3 linked regions of the Homo sapiens genome follow. The protein of the gene in region 3 purifies or fractionates together with the protein of the main gene of each other region. This does not show direct contact. Each region holds a gene or a part of one and is shown on either strand. Other genes may lie near its edges.

Region 1 (7,027 bases), on a different chromosome or scaffold from region 3:
GCCTCGTAAGCCAAATAGCCAACTTGTGAATGCAAAGGGAAGGTTCCTGAAGGAAAGTAAAAGTGCTACTCCAGTGAACACACTAATGATATGAACACAAAACAGCCTTATTGCTGATACAGAGAAATTGTATTGGTCTGGATAGAAGATCAAACCAGTCATAACATTCCCTTAAGCCAAAGCCTAATCCAGGGCAAGGCCCTAACTCTCTTCAATTCTATGAAGGTGGAAAAAGGTGAGGAAGCTGCAGAAGGAAAGTCTGAAGTTAGCAGAGGTTGGTTCTTGAGGTTTATGGATAGACGATGTCTCCATCACATAAAAAGTGCATGACAGGCCAGGCGCGGTGGCTCACGCTTATAATCCCAGCACTTTGGGAGGCCGAGGCGGGCAGATCACTTGAGGCCAGGGGTTCAAGACCAGCCTAGCCAACATAGTGAAACCCCGTCTCTACTAAAAATACAAAAATTAACTGGGTGTGATGGTGCACACCCGTAGTCCCAGCTACTCAGGAGGCTGAAGCAGGAGAATCGCTTGAACCCAGGAGGCAGACGATGCAGTGAGCCAAGGTAATGCCAATGCACTCCAGCCTGGGTGACAGAGCAAGACTCCATCTCAAAAAGCAATGTGCATGATGAAGCAACAAGTGCTGATGTAAAAGCTGCAAATTATCCAGAAGATCTAGCTAAGATCATTGATGAAGGTGGCCACACTAAACAACAGATTTTCAATGTAAATGAAACAGCCTTATGTTGGAAAAAGATGCCACTTGGGACTTTCATAACTAGAGAGAAGTCAATACCTCACTTCAAAGAATACCCTGACTTCACCACTACAATCTATGCATGTAACAAAATTGCACTTGCACCCCGTAAATTTATACAAATAAAATACTTTAAAAGGCTTCAAAAAGATAGGCTAACTCTTGTTAGGAGCTAATGCAGCTGGTGACTTTAAGTTGAAACCAATGCTCATTTACCAGTCTGAAAATTCTAGGGCCCTTAAGAATTATGCTAAATATACTCTGCCTGTGCTCTATATATGGAGCAACAGAGCCCAGATGGCAGTATATCTGTTTACAGCATGGTTTACTGACTATTTTAAGCCCACTGTTGAGACCTACTGCTCAGAAAAAATATCCTTTTCAAAATACTACTGCTCATTGACAATGCACCCAGTCACCCAAGAGCTCTGATGGAGATGAATGTTTTCATGTCCACAAACACAACAACCATTCTGCAGCTTATGGATCACGGAATAATTGACTTTCAAGTCTTATTTAAGAAATAAATACAAAATACACTTTTTAAGGTTATAGTAGCCATAGAAAGTGATTTCTCTGATGGATCTGGGCAGAGTAAATTGAAAACCTAGAAAGGATTCACCATTTTAGCTGACATTAAGAACATTCGTGATTCATGGCAGAAGGTCAAATATCAACAATAACAGGAGTTTGAAAGAAGGTGATTGCAACCCTCAGGGATGACTTTGAGGAGTTCAAGACTTCAGTAGACGAAGTAATTGCAGGTGTGGTGGAAAAGCAAGAGAACTAGAATTAGAAGTGGAGAATGAAGACGTGACTGAATTGCTGCAACTTCATGATCAAACTTGAACAGATGAGGAGCTGCTTCTTACAAGTGAACAATGTGGTTTCTTGAGATGCAATCTATTTCTGGTGAAGATGCTATGAACATTGTTGAAATGACAACAGATTTAGAATATTATATAAACCTAGTTGATAAAGCAGTGGCAGGGGTTGAGAGGATTGACTCCAATTTTGAAATTTTTACTGTGGGTAAAATGCTATCAAACAGCATCACATACTACAGAGAAATATTTTGTAAAAGGAGAAGTCAATTGAGGTGACAAACTTTACTGCTGTCCTATTTTAAGAAATTGCCAGAGCCACCTCAGTGTTTAGCAGTCACCACCCTCAGCAGCTATCAACACTGAGGCAAGACCCTCTGCCATCAAAAAGATGACTCGCTGACTGTTAACATTTTTTAGCAACAAAGAATTTTTAATTAAGATATATACTGTTTTCTAAAATATAATGGTATTGGACACCTAACAGAGTACTGTATAGTATAAATGTAACTTTTATATGCACTGGGAAACCAAAACATTCTTGTGCCTAGCTTTACTGCAATATTTGTTTTATTGTGGTGGTATGAAATCAAACCCTCAAAATCTGAGGTAATGCTCTTTCTTAACTTGCAAAGTGTTTACCTGGGTATTCTCTTTTAAATAAGCTATAGCCAGCCATGGTGGCTCACACCTGTAATCCCAGCAGTTTGGGAGGCTGAGGCGGGCCAATCACTTGAGCTCAGGAGTTCGAGACCAGCCTGGCCAACATGGCAAAAACCCATCTCTACTAAAAATACAAAAATTAGCCAGGCAAGGTGGGTGACAGGCACCTGTATTCCCAACTACTCGGGAGGCTGAGGCAGGAGAATTGCTTGAACCTGGGAGGTGGAGGTTGCAGTGAGCCAAGATTTTGCCACTTTACTGCAGCCTGTGCAACAGAGTGAGACTCTGTCTCAAAAATAAATAAGTTAATTAATTAATTAGCTGTGATATTTATTTGATAATGTATTCACCTTTTACATACTTGTGAGTGAAGAGGCTGCACTGAAGCAAGCCTGGTTGAGAATAACCTAGGAGTCCATCTTCTCACAGTACTGTTTTGCAGAAACTATGTAAGACAGTTGTAGAATGTTGTTTCTGCCTGTCTGCTGTGGAAGGTTATAATATATAATACGAAGTCTGGAGGAGCTAAAAGTGGGCATAAAAGACTGAGGCCTATGTGACTCAAGCAGTATAAAAAACTTGTGGGAAGTTGAAGTTGCAATTTCTTGTCGTCAACCTTGGCTCTCATCTTTGGAAGCCACATAGGCCCCAAAGGGGAAAAGAAGTTGCTTACTTGGGTAGCTGAGAGGCTTCCAAGAAGATGAAGATACTGTACCTGCTTTATCATCTGTCCTGTATTCTTTTATAAAACTAAGGAGGCTGGGCATGGTGGCTCACACCTATAATCCTAGCACTTCGGGAGGCCGAGGCTGGCAGATCACTTGAGCTCTGGAGTTTGAGACCAGCCTGGGCAACATGATGAAACCCTGTCTCTGCTAAAAATACAACAATTAGCCAGGTGTGGTGGCGTGTGCCTGTAGTCCCAGCTACTCGGGAGGCTGAGGTGGGAAAACTGCTCGAACCCAGGAGAAGGAGGTTGCAGTGAGCCAAGATCATGCTACCACACTCCAGCCTGGGCAACAGAGACAGAAAGAAAAGAAAGAAAGAAAGAAAAGAAAGAAAAAGAAAAAGAAAAGGAAAAAAAGAAAGAAAGAAAAAGAAAAAGCAAGCAAGCAAGAAAGCTAAGTAAAAGATACACTATTAAAGTCTATTTCTGTCTTATAAGTCTCAGTGACAATTTAACCCATTCTTCTATAGTGTGTTAAAACTCATTTTTTTTTTGAGATGGAATTTTGCTCTTGTTGCCCAGGCTGGAGTGCAATGGCATGATATCGGCTCACCGCAACCTCTGCCTCCCGGGTTTAAGCGATTCTCCTGCCTCAGCTCCCTGAGTAGCTGGGATTACAGGTGCCTGCCACCATGCTTGGCTAATTTTGTATTTTTAGTAGAGATGGCGTTTCTCCATGTTCAAAAACAGAAAAGAAGGGCAAGATAGGAATATACATTACCTTTGTTATGGGTTGAACTGCACCCTCCCAAAATTCTTATAATGAACTACTAACCCCTAATACCTCAGAATGTGACCTTTTTTGGAAATAGGGTCATTGCAAGTGTAATTAATTAAGATTAGGTCATTAGGGTGGGCCCTAGTCCAGTGACTGATTTCCTTATAAAAAAGGAAAATTCAGCCGGGCACAGTCGCTCAGGCCTGTAATCCCAGCACTTTGGGAGGCCGAGGCGGTCAGATCGCTTGACCCCAGGAGTTCGAGACCAGCCTGGGCAACATGGCGAAACCCCATGTATATTTTTTCTCTACAAAAAACACAAAAATTAGCTGGGCGTGGTGGTGCACACCTGTAATCCCAGCTACTTGGGAGGCTGAGAATTGCTTGAGTCCAGAAGGAGGTTGCAGTGAGCAGAGATTGTGCCACTGCACTCCAACCTGGGTGACAGAGCAAGACTCTGTCTCAAAAAAAGGAAATTCAGACAATTCAGACACAGGCATACAGGGAGAACACCATGTGAATATGAAGGCAGAAATCAGGATGATACTTTTGCAAGCCATCACCAAAGATTGCCAGCATTCCATCAGGAGCTAGGGGAGATGAATGAATAGATTCTTCCCCACAGCCTCAGAAGGAACCAACCCTGCCAACACCTTGTGCTGGGACCTCCAGCCTCCAGAACCTTGAGACAATAAAGTTCTGGGGTTTTTTTTGTTTTTGTTTTTGTTTTGATTCGGAGTCTCGCTTTGTTGCCCAGGCTGGAGTGCAGTGGCGGGATTTTGGCTTACTGCAACCTCCACCTCCTGGGTTCAAGTGATTCTTCTGCCTCAGCCTCCCTAGTAGCTGGGACTACAGGTGCATGCCACCATGCCTGGCTAAATTTTTTTGTATTTTTAGTAGAGATGGGTTTCACCATATTGGCCAGGCTGGTCTCAAACTCCTGACCTCATGATCCATCCACCTCGGCCTCCCAAAGTGCTGGGACTACAGGCGTGAGCCACCGCGCCCAGCCAAGTTCTGTTGTTTAAGCCACCCAGTCTGTGGTACTTTGTTATGGCAGCCCTAATGAACTAATACGGGCTTTAAGCTATAAATCACTAAGGTTGGTTAAGTTAACAAATCATAACCCTCAAAAATGTTAACCCAACTTGAAAGAAGCTTTTGAAACTGTTTACAGTCCATTTCAGAAATAACAAAAATAGAAATAAATGCAATTATTAAACATATGTCATGTTAAATGACAATAAAGTTATTAAATAATAATTTATTTAAAAAGTATAACCAGTTTTCTTTGATATAAGTAACTGGGTCCCAAATGCTGGTAAAATGAGACAAGTAGGATCCTTCATTAATTTCTCATATCCATTTCCATCTGTTTTTTCTTTTTTTGTTGTTCCATGTGAAACTGAGAAAAAAAAATCTGCGTTTTCAACTTAAACAGTGGTCAACTTAATCTTACTTTTTTGGGAATTTGCTCGCACTCCAGTTTAATTTTCTCTTCTTGTGTTTCTTCAACTTCTGTATCTATTTCATCATCGATTCTGTAGCAAAAATATCAAATAACACAAAAGAGTTTTTTCAACCTGAAGTGTTCATACCACAGCGTTACAATTCACTGCTTTGGCTTGTCTTCAACTTACCCTCAAAGAAATTACAAATTCAAATTCTATACCAAATACTCCAGAAAATGTACAAAATTATGATGACCAATAAATGTCCATATATATTTATGAATAGCCTGTAAAATTTTAGATTATAAAGCCTTAATGTTCAAGTATTAGCAGCTATATAAATCATTCATTCATCCATCATTCCATTAATTCAACAACTACTAAGTACCCACCATGTACGAGGCTCCGGGCCTTAGGCCCTGGACTACAACAATGAAAAATACAGACCCTGTCACTGTGTTCTGAGAGCTTTCTATCTCCTTGGGAGAAAAAAATAAAGCTATTTCAATATGGTATGGTAAGTATAGGGGCATATATGGGGAACACAACCCAGACTTGGGGATCAGAGGCATTCAGAGCCTAAATGATACTTATGAGTTAGCCAAAAAAGAGGAAAGAGGAATGTGAGAGAGAAGGGTATTTTAGGCAGAATGCAGAGTGCCTTTTGAGATTAGGAGCGAGACAAACACATTTAAGTGTAAAGATGAAAAAGAAAAACTGTTTTCAGACTTACAGGACTGAGAAGTTGACCATGCATATATATAACAGTCTGAGACAATTACTTGAGGCTATTCCAGCAAAACTAAATATGAACCCAAGAGGGATGGGAAATATAAGAACATGGTGAACAAAGAAGACAATAAAATGTATAGATGTATCTGAATAATGGTTGATACTAGAAATATAGGGAGCTGAAGAAAATATTATCTTAGTAAGTGGTGACTATTGAACACAAGATTGGGAAAAGCTGTGAATTAAAATATGAGTTACACACCAGATAAAGGCAAGGAATTGGGGAATGTGTCCCATCTCAAGAGAACATGTTACAAAGGGAAAGCACTGACAGCACAAGGAGAATGTGAACAGTGGCTCCGTGGCTGTTCTTTCAAAGTTACAGGAGCTCAGGCTTCACAGCTTTGTCCAATTCAACAGTTTACACTGACTCAGAGCTCCAGAGTTACATCCATCAGATGAGGTACTAAGTTGTGAGCCTGCTACAGAAGCCACCATTACAAGAACCAAAAACCCCAATACTTGTGAATCTTTATAGCTATAGTTTCCAGTAATGAATCATCTCATGGAGTAGGAGGCAACCTCTCCTTAGGCAGAGGAATAATGACAATAATGACCTCAATAGCAGTAACAGCATCAGCCAACACTTGAATGATGCTTACTCTGTGCCAGATGCTGCTCCATACACGTAACACTTACCACAAACAACAGTGTTATGACATACATACTAAAAGCCCATTTTACGGATGAGAAAACAATCACAGAAAGGATATGTAACTTGTCACAGAGCTAATACATGGTGGAGCTGAGATCTGAGCCCCAGCAGGCAGGCAAAGCTCCCAAGTATGTGCCCTACAATCACACTGTTATTCAACACTGCCCATTCTAAATAGATGTCTACTTTCACTGTGAAGGTCTACAATACTCAGCACCCATATTAGACCTATGAGCAGGATAGGACAGAGGTGACCACCTCTTCTCTGTAAAACATGTTCTTTACTTAGCTTCAGAGATAGTGGGCTCTTCTAGTTTCTTCTTTCCACAGCTACTACTTCTCAGTCTCCTTTGTTGGTTCCTTATCTTCACAACTTTCAAAGTCAGTTCTCACCTCTTCTCTTCTTTGTCTATATTCTCATCTATATTCTCATTCCA
Region 2 (7,027 bases), on a different chromosome or scaffold from region 3:
GTGCCCCATCCATTCTGAGAAGCCTACCCTCTCCCCAGGGTGAGTGTTTTTGTTTTGAAAAGACTTCCAGCAGGGCACAATGGCTCACGACTGTAATCCCAGCACTTTGGGAGGCTGAGGTGGGAGGATGGCTTGAGCCCAGGAGTTTGGGAACAGCCTGGGCAACAAAGTGAGACCCTGGTCTCCACAAAAAATAGAAAAAAAAATAGCCGGACCTGATGGCACAGGCTTATAGTCCCAGCTACTTGAGAGGCAGAGGCAGGAGGATCAGTTGAGCCTGGGAGGTTGAGGCTACAGTGAGCCATTATCATGCAATGGCACTATAACCTGGGCGACTGAGCAAGACCCTGTCTCAAAAAAAAAAAAAAAAGACTCCCTAGGGGATTCGTTTATCTTACCTATATTCTAGGAGCGCATCACTTACTTTGAAGTCTTTCTATTCTCAGACTTCTCTTAGTCTTCTCCTTTACTGCCAATGAATGGTCTGGACTTCCTACTACAGGATTGCCTTGGGATGTAGGAATTTGCCTTGCCGAATGTTTATTCCTTGTGTCCTCAGTTCATTGACGCCAGTCTCGAACCTTCAACCTCAGCTTGAAGCTCTTGCTTACTCTCTCAACATATAAATACTATGTGGACTTTCCTCACCTGAAGAATTTGTCAAAATTCCAAAGTGACCCCATGGCAGCATAGCATAGTGGTTAGTACCATGGACTTTGGGGTTAGACCCTCTGGCTCATCCCAGGACTGACTGCACAAAACATGGAGCAAATTGTTTGAACCCTGTGAGGAGCATTCCTTTATTGTAAGATAGTGGGTATGTACCTATGACATTAGGTACATAGGGTCACTGTGCAAACTGTTAATGTCAGCAAGTGCTCCACATAGGGAGGAATTCACTGCCTTATATAAGTTCACACCATGTTCTGTACTCTTCTACCCTCACCCCCTTCAAGATTCACATTGTTCTTGCTCAAGTTTCCCAAACTTGTTTCATCATAGAACACACCTTGTTTTCTGTGTTGTCAGGCACACCAAGTTGACAGAAACACTGGTGTTTTCATCCTCCCTTTGTGAACTAAAACTGGGACCTAGAAAAATGAAATCTTTTGCTTTAGGCCGTACACTGGATTGGATTGGTCCCTTTCAGTTGTTTGGAGTCTTTAAAATATTTGAACCTCTACGGTGTTCAGGGCTCAGAGACAGAGCAGTGAAGAAAATATGTGTTGTTTCTGCTTATGAAAATGACATTCAAGCTGACTTGCAATGTGTGGATTTTTCAAGTAGTAAATAGGTAATCATTTTTGCTTCTTAAAATAGAGAACAGATACCAAAATTACTCCAGGTTAAACTTTGCTTATTCTGGATTCCAAAATTTAGGGGTCTTGATCTGTCCTGGGGCCTTGGGTTTACAGCATGCAAATACCACCCAGTAATGTTAAAGCTGGAAGGAATCGTAGAGATAACCTGGTTCAGCTCTCTCATTAAATAGAAAAGTCCTTTACAGTCACCCTTGGCCCTGCCTCCTAAAACTCAGAATGATTTTGAACAGGCCAAAAAGTGTGAATCTGCCTTGAAGTCTCAACTAAACCTAATGCTGAGTCCCTACTGTGGTATTTGAAGGGAAAGAAAAAAAGCAAAGCAAAACACACCACCCCTTGCCCCAATGGAACTTACATTTGAAAAGTTTGAGAACTGGAAGAAGATTTAAATGCTATTCAAGATCACTGGAGGAAATGACCAGTCAACTCATAAGCAAGGGCTTTGCACAAGAATTAAGAGGAAAGAGAATCAGGAGTTAGGGAGAAGGTGGGCTTGAAAGTAGGGTGCCTAGGACTGTGGATAGGCGAAGAGACAAAGGGAGTCCGTTTCACTATTTGGCCAGTAAAATAATCCAGTATCGAAAAGAGAAATGTCTTGAAATGCTGTTCTTGGTCTTACCCCATTTTGTTTGATAGCCTTAAATGCATTGTCTCCTTCCATTCTGTGCACAGACCAAACACGTCCTACCCAGAGGCATTAAGACAGCAGAAGCTTCGGAGGAATAGAAAGAGGTCTTAGATGTGTGACCTGGCTGCCTGTTTCACAAGGAAGGAAACTGAAGCCCAGAAAAGGGACAAAACTTTTATCCACAATGAGTTAGTGATAGCACTCAAACCAGCCTCCCAGGCTTTTTAAAACCACATTTACAATCCTGTAAATTATTTGGTTGAAGGGTTGGTGCCTATGTTTTTAACTTTGAAATACTTCTCACATAAAGGTTGGGGGGGTGAAGGCATCAACAGTTTGCTTTTATCCCCTTGTTTTCCATTGCGAGAATGCCTGTCCTGAATGTGCCTAAAACAAAGTTCAAGATTACTGCCACTTAGACAGCAGGCAAGCCTGAGTCACTGTCAGTCAGAAATTCTGTTGCTTTGTCTAAGGCACACACTGATTCTTCTGACAAATAGCAAGTGAGGACACACTCACAGACACTAATCCAGGACAAACTCTCAAGACTCATATAACAGAATAGTTAGAAGTTTGGGAGAGCCGGGAGCCTAGCTTACACTCAACTTGATAAGACACTAATTGTTCTTTACCAATTGTTTGATGTCGATGCCTTTAGGTGGCTGGGAACCGAGGCCTTGGAAAGTAATCTTGCCTGCACACCAAGTGGCTTTGAGCCAGGCTACTATAAGAGGCCATGCAGAGTTTTTCTCCACGAGGCATGCAGAGGACGCATGCCCACATGAACATAATGCAGGGTCACAAGTGGTAGCATCTTAGAAAATAGTACAGTTGTCTGGGAGTTTAGTTAGGGGCATTGGGGAAGCAGGGGAAGGAAGAAGCTGAGGGAGGAACTATAATAGTATAGGATAGACCAGGGTCTTAGCAATAGATGGGTTGTCAGCCTGCAAACTTCCCCAACTTGTCGAGTGCCTAGGGAACCTTCAGAGCAGAGCAAGGCCGTTCCCTCCCCAGCCCTTAGAAAAGCAACTCTGAATCCTCTTCTGTGGCTTGGGTCTCAGAGTTTAGAGAGCCGCCAGGTCAAGAGGCAGAGAGCTGGCTGGCATTGGGGAAATATAAGTTAACACAATACAATAAAATGCTAGACTCAGAGTCAGAAGGTTTTAATCCCAGTTTCACCCTGTAAATAAGAGCTGAAACTTGCAGGTTGCTATGTATCAGGTGAAGTCAGTACCGTGATTATCTTCATTTTATAGGTGAGGCAACTGAGGTACCAAGGTTAGTGAAATTGCCCAATGTAAAACAGCTAAGCAAGTAACCAAGTCAGGATTCAAGGCCAGACATTCAAACTTGAGTATGCTTTCTTAACTGCTGTGGGGTACTGCTGGGACAGGTAGCTTAAGTTCTAGGTTCTTCTGTTTTTCTTGGTTGTAAAATGGGCATAATCATATTTTACTCAGAAACTAATGGCTCAGGCCGTGTGCGGTGGCTCACACCTGTAATCCCAACACTTTGGGAGGCCGAGGTGGACGGATCACCTCAGGTCAGGAGGTGGAGACCAGCCTGGCCAAAGTGGTGAAACCCTGTCTCTACTAAAAATACAAAAAATCAGCTGGGCGTGGTGGCGGGCGCCTGTAATCCCAGCTACTCAAGAGGCTGAAGCAGGAGAATCACTTGAACCCGGGAGGCAGAGGCTGCAGTGAGCTGAGATCGCATCAGTGCACTCCAGCCTGGGCGACAGAGCAAGACTGTCTCCAAAAAAAAAGAAAGAAACTAATGGCTCCTCTTTGTTTTTAGTTGTATATTGATCAGTGCTTGTGGCACTGCTGATTTCTGTTGGTTCCTTCTGTGTGTCTCAGCTGCCAGGGACCCCACCTGCTCTCTGCTCTACTCTTGAATGACTTGGGGCAACCACACAGACTTCTTGCTCCTGACCGACTACTTTTTATGTGCATTGGGGATTTTAGGTACCAGCCCCAGGAGACAGAAGCAGCCCTTCCTTAATTGAGAGCTTTGGTTAATTGGGGTTGCGTTGGGTAAGGCTTTTTATAGTATAAACTCTCGAGGGGTGCTTCCTAAGTAGAACTTGTAGTCTGCTCATATTCACCTCAAATGTGGCCTTTGCTGGTATCTGTAGGGCTAGGAACCCTCCTTAGTGACTTCTAAATTCTGGATCCTGACCTAGTTGTCTTTAACTTGCATATTCTGCATACCCTACTACTACTTTCTGTGTTCTTTCTCTTTTTACACCTCTCCAGCGCATGACTTTTATCTTGATTTATTTCACCCTCTTATCGACCACCTAGGTGTGCATGTGGTATACTGTGGGGAACCCAGAGACTTGATTTCATTCCACCGTGAGTGCCCAGTCTAATGGAAGAGATGGTTACAGTACAATAGATGTTACTTCACTGCAGCCTGTAAGAGGTGCTCTGGGTGAATCAGCTGCCAGGAATGTGGACTAAATCTGGGGAAAGGAAGGATGAGTTGTAAAAGGGTAAATCAGAAACAAGCCTGGCAAGAGCTGAGGCTTAGGTGTGTGGCAAGGCCCATGCATATGGAGAGAGATACTTGAGCCCGGACTGCCATGGATTAGGGGTACCCCAACTCTCTGCCTGGCTGGTGGATTCTACATTTTAACAAACCCCTGTAATGTTCCAAGTAGTAATAGCTAGCATTTCGTAGTATTTTCATACTCCTTTTCTCATTTAATCATCACCACTGTAAAGTTGGTGTTTATATAACTTGTTCTTACAGACAAGAACGTCAGTGTCCATCAAGGTCAAGTTGCTTGTCCAGCACAACACTAGAGAAAGGTCAGGGCCTAGGTTTACATCCAGATGCTCTTTCCAGTGTCCATGTTCTTGACAGGCTGCCTTGTGACCGTGTTGGACAGCTGCCAGTGGTGTCCAGAGACATTAGCATAATTCACACCCAGTAGCAGTCTGCTCTAGTGTCCAGGCACCATTCAAGGTGCTTTGTATGTCACAGTTAAGCCTTAGAGCAGTCCAGTGCTGTAGGTGTTTCTTCTCAATTTATAAAAAACTAAACAGATTCTTAGTGTTCTAAGAAATTTGCCCAGGATCATATAGCTATGTAATTGGGGGATTGGGGGCAGGTAGTAGAGGGAATGTTGACCCCAGGCCTGGCTGGCTTTACAGCCCCTGTCCGGCCGGTGGGTTTACTCTTGTCCTCTTTTGGACACTGTGTTTTGCCCTGGCAGCCAACAGAACAAGTCTGTTAATCTTAGGAAGTACTTTGGACACACCCTGTGGTGTTGCTATGGTACCCAGCCTCTTTATAATGACATAACAGCACAAAATCATTGAGAATGGGACCAATTCTTGGTCTGCATTTTCATATTTCTTTGGGAAGATGTGCCAGGATGGGTCCGTGTCTTTAGCTTCTTAGGACAGATCTTTGGCTGAGCCAGCTCTTTAACTAAAATATTTTAATGTACAACTCCTAATTAAACAGGGATGGCTATAGTCATAATTTATTCAAACTTCATTTTTCGGGGTTCCCTCATCCTTTTTCTTAAGACATAACTTTATAATTTTAATATTCTGCCCTTTTCCCCCCTTCACATTAAAACTTGCTTATTACATGCTATGTGACTTTCTCTTTTGGCTTTTTAAGTAAACTTTTGTTGAAGTATAATATGGTCCTTTAAAACTTTCAGCCAATTGGTATTACCATAGTTAACTGTTACTCATTCTCATTCTTGGACAGTAGTTTTCCAATCCTCCACTTTGACTTACTCTGTATGGAATACCAGTTCTGAGTGTCTCTGGTGTTTGGTGTGTGTTTTTTTGTTGGGTGGGGAGGCTTGTTTGTTTTGTGTCTTTTTGACACTTTTGGAATGAATTCCTCAAGTGGGATTTTTCTTTCAAATGGATCGAGCATTTCTAAGACTTCCTATATGTATTGCTGAATTGCTGAAGTGTGCGTAAGTCAAAGTCCTAATTAGTCCTCTGCTGAAAGACAGATCTGCATGTTGTGTGGTTGGACCATCACGAGGGACTGGATGAACATTAAACTCTGGGGGGCACGCATCAGAGTCTGCTGTGGGAACTAGCACATCCAGGTGTGCGATTTTGCTGCAGGCACTAAGGCAGTCACAGTGCTTCTGCTGAGAATCTAGCCTATGGAAACTCAAGGTCCTGCCCTCAACTAGGCAAGTTACTTAATCTTTTGCTCCTGAGTCTCCTCACCTGTGAGAGGAAATGTAATTATTATCTGAATAGATAGCAGTTTCGAGTAACCAGAGAGGAATGGCAGAGCACTCTCTGAATTCTTCCTTTCCATCTTATGTGACAAGTTATTAAATCTTATTTATCCTAAACTTCTAAGACCTTTCACATCCTCTTCTCACCTCCTCCCTTGCCAGCCCTCACTTCACCAGGTTTCAGAGCCTCTTGATAAGTCAGTCGGCCACTAGGCTGTCTCCCATCGCCAACCCCTCATGCCTCCATAAGGAACTTGTTTCATTGTCCAAGATATGCTCTTTCACAGTTTAACGTCTCTGAAATCAGCGGTTGACTTAGTCAATGGTGTGCCCATAGCGTTGTCAGCAGCCTATATGGCTTACTTAAATGGTATGCCTTAAAATTGGTGACTTGTAGATTCTGTAAGCGACACATCTCTAAAATACGTCAGTGGCCAGGCGTGGTGGCTCATGCCTATAATTACCCAGTACTTAAGGAGGCTGAGGTGGAAGGATTGCCTGAGCCCAGAAGTTCAAGACCAGCCCGGGCAACATAAGGAGACCCTGTCTCTACTAAAAATAGAAAAGAATAGCCGGGCGTGGTGGTGCATGGTTGTAATCCCCACTACTCTATTCGAGAGGCTGAGGCAGGAGGCTCCCTTGAGCCCAGAAGGTAGAGGCAGCAGTGAGCTGTGATTGGCTGCACTCTGGCCTGGGCAACAGAGCTAGACCGTTTCAAAATAAGTAAATAAATAAAATGTATTAAGAACTTTCAGTCACTTCCCATTTCTTGGAGTCTAAATCCACCTTAGAAGATATCCAGCCTCATTCCGGCACATCTACAGAAACTCTTCTGTGATTATCCAGACT
Region 3 (6,860 bases):
TCAAGATCATGAATAAAGAAGAAACATAAGATAATGCTGCATCAAAGAGACTATCAATAAAGATAAATTACTTAAAAACCAAATGGAAATTCTGGAGTAGAAAAGTACAAAACCTGAAATAACAAAATTCACTAGAAGGGCTTAATAGTAGAACTGAACTGGCAGGATAAGCAAACTTGAAGACAGATCGATAGATTATGCATGCTGAAGAACACAGAGAAAAAAAGAACGAAGAAAAATAAAGCAAGCTGCAGAGAAATGCTGGACATCATTAAGTGCACTAACATACACAAAATAAGAACCACCAGGAATGCAGAGAGAAAGGAGCAGAAAAAATATTTGAAGAAATAATGGCTGAGAACTTCTCAAATTTACAGAAAAACATTAACCTATATATCCAGGAATCTTTTTTTTTTGAGACGGAGTCTCACTCTATCGCCCAGGCTGGAGTACAGTGGCATAATCTTGGCTCACTGCAAGCTCCGCCCCCCAGGTTCATGCCATTCTCCCGCCTCAGCCTCCCAAGTAGCTGGAACTACAGGCGCCCGCCACCACGCCCCGCTAATTTTTTGTATTTTTAGTAGAGATAGGGTTTCACTGTGTTAGCCAGGATGGTATCAATCTCCTGACCTTGTGATCCGCCTGCCTCAGCCTCCCAAAGTGCTGGGATTACAGGCGTGAGCCACCGTGCCTGGCCCCATATCCAGGAATCTTAATGAACAGAACTCCAAATAGGATACATGCAAAGAGATCCACAGACACATCACTGTAAAAATACAAAGATCAAAGGCAAAATCTTGAAAGAGAACAAAACCTTGAAAGCCCCAAGAAGAAAGCCACTTAGAAGGGAACCTCAATAAATGAACTGACTGAAACAATGGAGAATATTCAAACATATTCAACATGCTCAAATAAACTTGTCAACCAAGAATCCTATATCCAGCAAAGCTATACTTCAAAAATGGGCTGGGCATGGTGGCTCATGCCTGTAATCCCACCACTTTGGGAGGCTGAGGCAGTGATCACCTGAGGTCAGGAGTTTTAGACCAGCCTCGCCAACATGGTGAAAACCTGTCTCCAGTAAAAACACAAAAATTAGCCGGGCGTAGTGGCAGCCTCCTGTAATCCCAGCCATTCCAGAGGCTGAGGTGAGAATCACTTGAACCCGGGAGGCAGAGGTTGCAGTGGGCCGAGATCACACCTCTGCACTCCAGCCTGGGCAACAGAGTGAGACTCTGGTCTCAAAGCAAAAACAACAACAACAACAACAACAACAACAACAACAACAAAACTCACTTTACAAGAAACACTAAAAGAAGTTCATCAGGCTGAAAGCAAGTGACCCCAGACAGTAATTCAAAACCACACACACACAAAAACAGCACCAGTAAAGGTAATTATGTTCTTATATAGTTTAAATGCCTATTCCTCTACCTCCTTCTCTTAATTTAAAAAGCAATTGTATACAGTAATATGTGTATAATATATACAGACATGTACTATATTTGCCAATAACAAAACAAAGTGGGTGAAAGCAAACCCCTGCTGGCTAAGGAAATGACCACAGACAGAAAGTAATAATGATAACACAGTACTGTTGAGTTTGTAACATTATCAGATGTAATACATATAACAAAATACCACAAAAATAACCATATAAGAGTAACATTTCTGTATCACTTGGAATTAACCTAGTACAAATCTGAAGCTTAAGATGTATATGGAGAATATGAAGATTAAGCTGTATACGGTAAAACATAAAGCACTGGAAAAAACCCAAAAAAGTTGTGGAAAAAAAATCATTAAATTAAAATGCTACATTAGGAAATATTCACTTTAATCCACTTAAAGAAGGAACAGGGGAAGAAAAAGACAGACTTGTATAAAGAAAAGAAAAAGTAAAATGGCAAATGTAAACCTAACTACAGTGTATCAATAATATTAAATGTGCATGGGCTAAACAATTCAATCAAAAGGCAGAAACTACCAGACTGCATTTTAAAAAAGATCCAAGTATATGTGCCTACAGGAGACAAGTTTTGGTTCAAAGATAAAAATAGTAAAAGGAGTTGGAATTCACAAGTGGCCACTCCATTTGAACAAACCAGGAGAGCCTCCATGCAGCTCAGAGCCTCCCAAGTGGACCGGGACCCGCGCCGGGTCCACTGTGAAAAGGGTCCTTCGCCTTAACTGTTACACCCACGCAATGAGCACTTGCCCCTTGCCAGACACTGGCACCCCCCTTCAATCCTCACCACCCTCTTGGTGGATCCCTCATCACCCCACTTTTAGCACATTCAGTAGATGGGGCCAAGCTGAGGTCACTTGCTGTGTGACGTCCATTGGAGTGGCAGCAGTTGAGGGGCACAAACTCAGCTCTGCAGCATCTAGCACTACCAGGAGTTGAAACCAGTTCTGGAGAGGGTGCCCCACCTTCCTAGGAAAGTGGCCCGAAACCTCCCTTCAAGGGGGCGTGACCTGGGAGCCCCCTGTTGCCCAGGACGTGAACTGTGAGCTCCACTTCTCCCGAGGGCGTGGACCGGAGCCCCCCTTCTCCCGCGGGCATGGCCTGGGAGCTCCCCTTCTCTCGGGGGTGTGGCCCAGAGGCCCCATTCTGCGGGGGTGGGTAACCTGGGAGCCCCCTTCTCCCGGGGACGTGACCTGTGAGCTCCACTTCTTCCGAGGGCGTGGCCCGGAGCCCCCTTTTCACAGGGGCGTGACCTGGCAGCCCTCCTTCTCCCGGGAGCGTGGCCTGGAGCCCCCCAACTACTGCCGGGGGCGAGGCCCAAGCGGAGGCCGCTCCTAGGCCACAGGCACCCCGTGACCCCGCCCCGGTTCTCCAGACAGCAGGTGACCCAGAGTCCCCGCCCTGCCCGGCGCAGCTGCTGCCGGGACCCAGCCCTCACCTTCCGGCTCCTCATGAGTGTGAGCACCGCAGCCAAGCACCGCGCGCCCCGGCCAACGCGTCCCGGCGGAGCGGCGACCCGGAGTCTGCAGAGCGCGCCGCGGCGGCGTCCGACGTCAGCACAGCCAATCACAGTGCAGCACCCTCGTCATGTGATTCCCCCCCCCCCCCCCCCCGTGTTGGCTCTTTCGTAAGCGGCGGGCGAAGGTCACAGGCCTTGGGCCAGTGGTGGGACACTGGAGCAGGAAGTCGGCCTGTGGCCGGCCATGTTCATGAGGGCGCGTCCCTTGGCACCCCTGTAGCCGCTATGTTTCCCACGCCCGTGGCAGGCCTGAGAGATTATGTTTGCGGGGGGTGCTTTTTTTGTAGCTTCTGTGTTCGCCATATTTGAAAGGGGCAGACGGCCATGTTCGTGAACGGCGCTTCCCTTGGTGCACCTGTGGCCGCCATGTTTGAGCGAGGTGGGCAACTATGTTCTTGAGGGGGGAGCAACCATGTTCTTGAGGGGCTCTTCCCTTGAAGCCTCTTTGGCCACCATGTTTGAGAGGGGCAGACGGCCATGTTTGTAAGGGGCGCTTCTCTTGGTGCGCCTGTGGCCGCTATGTTTGAGAGGGGCAGGCAACCATGTTCGTGAGGGGCGCTTCCCTTGAAGCCTCTTTGGCGCCATGTATGAGAGGGGCGGACGGCCATGTTTGTGAGGGGCTCTTCCTTTGGTGCGCCTGTGGCCGCCATGTTTGAGAGGGGCGGGCGGGACGTCCGTGAGGGGCCCCTCCCCTTGCATCCCCTGGCTAACAGCCTGCAGGAGGGCGGGAAGTGCTTTCTCCAGTGCCGCAGAGCGCTGGTTTCTGAGTGCCGGTTAGCGGCCTTGAGCAGCGCGAGGGACTCCCAGGCCTGCCCGTGCTGCGGTCCCGCTGGGGAGCTTTGCGCGCTTGTCGCAGGCTGTGCTGCCCCGCGACATGCCGCTTTGGGTTGGGGTGGCCCGCCCGGGAAGTGGCCTCAGCTGTCCCCCACGTTGCGGGCGGGAGGGGGCCTTAGTGGAGGCCGTCGGTGGGCCCAGGAGGCCAGGGTCCGGCGTCGGGCTGGGGGCCGGTTTTCGTCCCCCGTTACGTGCAAGGCGGGAAATGACCCCTCCGCCGTCCCGTTACTCTCCGGGGCCAACGTGGACTCGCAGGGGCCACGCCTTTTCCAATGGCCACGCCCCTAGCAGGCCTGGGTGGACCCGCAGCGGCCACGCCTCCTCCAATGGCCGCGCCCTATCAGGTCTGGATGGACACACGGCGGCCACGCCTCCTCCAGCAAACACGCCCCTAGCAGGCCTGGGCTGCTGTGATGCGTCCTCTTTGGCCGCCGCTGAGGGAGGTGTTTGTAAAGCTGAGGACCACTGTTCTGTTGTGGGTTTTTTTGTTTGTTTGTTTGTTTTTTGAGACGGAGTCTCGCTCTGTCACCCAGGCTGGAGTGCAGTGGCGCGATCTCAGCTCACTGCAACCTCCGCCTCATGGGCTCAAGCCATTCTCCTGCCTCAGCCTCCTGAGTAGCTGGGATTACAGGCAGGCGCCACCACACCTGGCTAATTTTTGTATTTTTAGTAGAGATGGGGTTTCATCATGTTGGTCAGGCTGGTCTCGAACTCCTGACCTCAAATAATCCGCCCACCTTGGCCTCCCAAAGTGCTGGGATTACAGGCGTGAGCCACCGTGCCAGGCCCACTGTTCTTTTCTTTTCTTTTTTTTTTTTGACGGGAGTCTCGCTATGTCGCCCAGGCTGGAGTGGAGTGACGCAATCTCGGCTCACTGCAAGCTCTGCCTCCCGGGTTCACGCCATTCTCCTGCCTCAGCCTCCCGAGTAGCTGGGACTACAGGCTCCCGCCACCACACCCGGCTAATTTTTTTGTATTTTTAGTAGAGACGGGGTTTCACCGTGTTAGCTAGGATGATCTCGATCTCCTGACCTCGTGGTCCGCCTGCTGCGGCCTCCCAAAATGCTGGGATTACAGGCGTGAGCCACCGCGCTCGGCACACTGTTCTGTTCTTAAGAATTTCAACATAGAAATGAAATCCAGCCTTGCCTTAAACCCTCCAGCCCTCAAGTTCTCTGGGCTCTAGGATGTGTGTCTTCAGAAAAGGGCGCAGGGTGGAAGCCACATCAGAGGCCGAGGACACCTGGCCCCTCCCCTCTCCGCCCGCAGGTGGCTGCGCAGTCCAGGGCTGGCTCCCAGGTGCTCGGGCGCAGGGTGCACCCAGCAGCCCGTACTGTGCTTTGCAAATAAATGGGAGTCTTATTTCCTTTTTAAATCATTATTTTTTTTTTCAAGTGAGAACATTTAAATCAGGCAGTTTTGTCAGAAGCATTAGGTTTTCCACTTAAACTACAAAGGTTGAAAAGTGAACTGCATTGCATTGTGGCTTCATGGCCTGCTCAGGGTCCCTCTGTGCACTGTTCCAAGGCAGGGTGTGATTCATAATCTCTTCCAAAAGCATCAGTGTGCCTTCTCTTACGGTATGACTCTCTCAAAGCCCAGACATGCAGCTGATGCCTCCTTTTAGTGCCTGAGAAGGGAGAGTATTTAAGGATCCTGCCAGCTTGAGCTCTATGCAGCCTCCACTCTCTTTAGAAGTGTGACGTTTGGTAATTAGGTGGAGCCCTCAAATTAGACTGCACGTGGGGTTTTGCTTTCGGCAGTGAGTGAAGATGCTTGCAGCCCTGGTGTACACACACACACACATGTCCTACCTGGCTGTTGTACCCTCTCTCTTCCTAGCCCTGCGCTTCTCCCGTGTTATTATCCATGTTGTACAGAAGGGGAGGAGACAAATGTGTAACTGGCAGGAAATGCGTTTGAAATGGAAACTTAATATAATCGCTGCCAGCTGTTCAGAAAAAAATGAGAGCGAGCGATACTTTGTTAAACACCTAGCCTGTCCCATTTTCGCAGAGATTGATTTCATAATAAGCTTGGTTCAGTGGTTTTATTTCCCAGTCCTTGGGAGCTCAAAGTTTTCATCCACTGGGGCTTGGCTGGTGTTTGCCTGTCTTGTTTGTGGTTGGTGCCAGTTGATGTAAATGCCTCACTGCCTGGCCTCGCCCGCCCGATGGGGGCTCTGGGCTCCGAGCCATGTGGACTTTTAACATCCCAAAGGGCACTCTCCTTCCCTTCACCAATGTTGTCTGTCCTCTCCCCAGGTCTGGGATGAGCATGGTTTCCAGCCTCCCAGCTGTAAGGCCTGACACCCAGGCCATTGGTGAATGTCTCTCTCTCCCTGCCCACATCCTGTCAGATGCCGGTTGCTGTTAATTCTAGACTTTGAAGCCTCACGGCTGGTCTCTCCTTTTCCTCTGGCCTGGGCAGCCCACAGCTGTTGGGGTGATCCCCTGCTTCTGGGATCCAGAGCCACAGTCTTAGAGTGGCCTGTAAGTCCTGGCATGGTGCCTGGCACACTGTGGGTGCCCAGCAGGTGTTTGTCCAATGAATGTGCGGAAGGGCTTCTGAGCTTGCTCACCGTTGCCGCTCCCTGCTCCAGCCGCACAGAGTCCCAGCACCTGTTCCCCTGCCCCTCTGCTATCCACAGTGCCTCCCTCAGCTCCTGACCACTGCAAAGCCTCTTCCCCACTTCCCTGTGCCTGAAAACCTTCTTTCCCCAGCTCCCCAACCCACGTTTTGCCTGGCTAATCCATTTGTTAAACCTCAACTCAGCTTATATCTCCTGTCCTCAGGGGGCCCTTCCTGGATGCTCCCCCGCCCCCTACATTCAATCTGCCGGTTGCTGCTTTTTTAGTGTTCTGCACTCTTCTACCAGGACCCCGTGGCAGGCCAGGACCGTTTCTCCGGTGCTATCCCAGAGCATGGCGCATCCACTCATTCACTCAAGGTATCAAGCTCCACTGTGTTCTGGGGACTGGGCCAGGCGCAAGCCCAGGCATGGAATCATCACACAGAATTGTACGTTTGCAGTGTGAT

The links. The genes of interacting proteins can lie anywhere in the genome.
Region 1: the proteins of C1orf174 (region 3) and ZC3H8 purify together in Homo sapiens (co-immunoprecipitation; 2 studies listed by BioGRID and IntAct, with this or other methods). This does not show direct contact.
Region 2: the proteins of C1orf174 (region 3) and STK35 purify together in Homo sapiens (affinity purification with mass spectrometry; 4 studies listed by BioGRID and IntAct, with this or other methods). This does not show direct contact.

Annotation. Positions count from the first base shown.
Region 1 is NC_000002.12:112,245,040-112,252,066, forward strand, and holds part of ZC3H8 (zinc finger CCCH domain-containing protein 8), read right to left. Parts: intron 5,234-7,027; coding exon 5,152-5,233; intron 1-5,151.
Region 2 is NC_000020.11:2,104,803-2,111,829, forward strand, and holds part of STK35 (serine/threonine-protein kinase 35), read left to right. Parts: intron 1-7,027.
Region 3 is NC_000001.11:3,897,266-3,904,125, forward strand, and holds the start of C1orf174 (UPF0688 protein C1orf174), read right to left. Parts: upstream 3,008-6,860; 5' UTR 2,922-3,007; coding exon 2,907-2,921; intron 2,317-2,906; exon of another isoform or gene 1-2,316.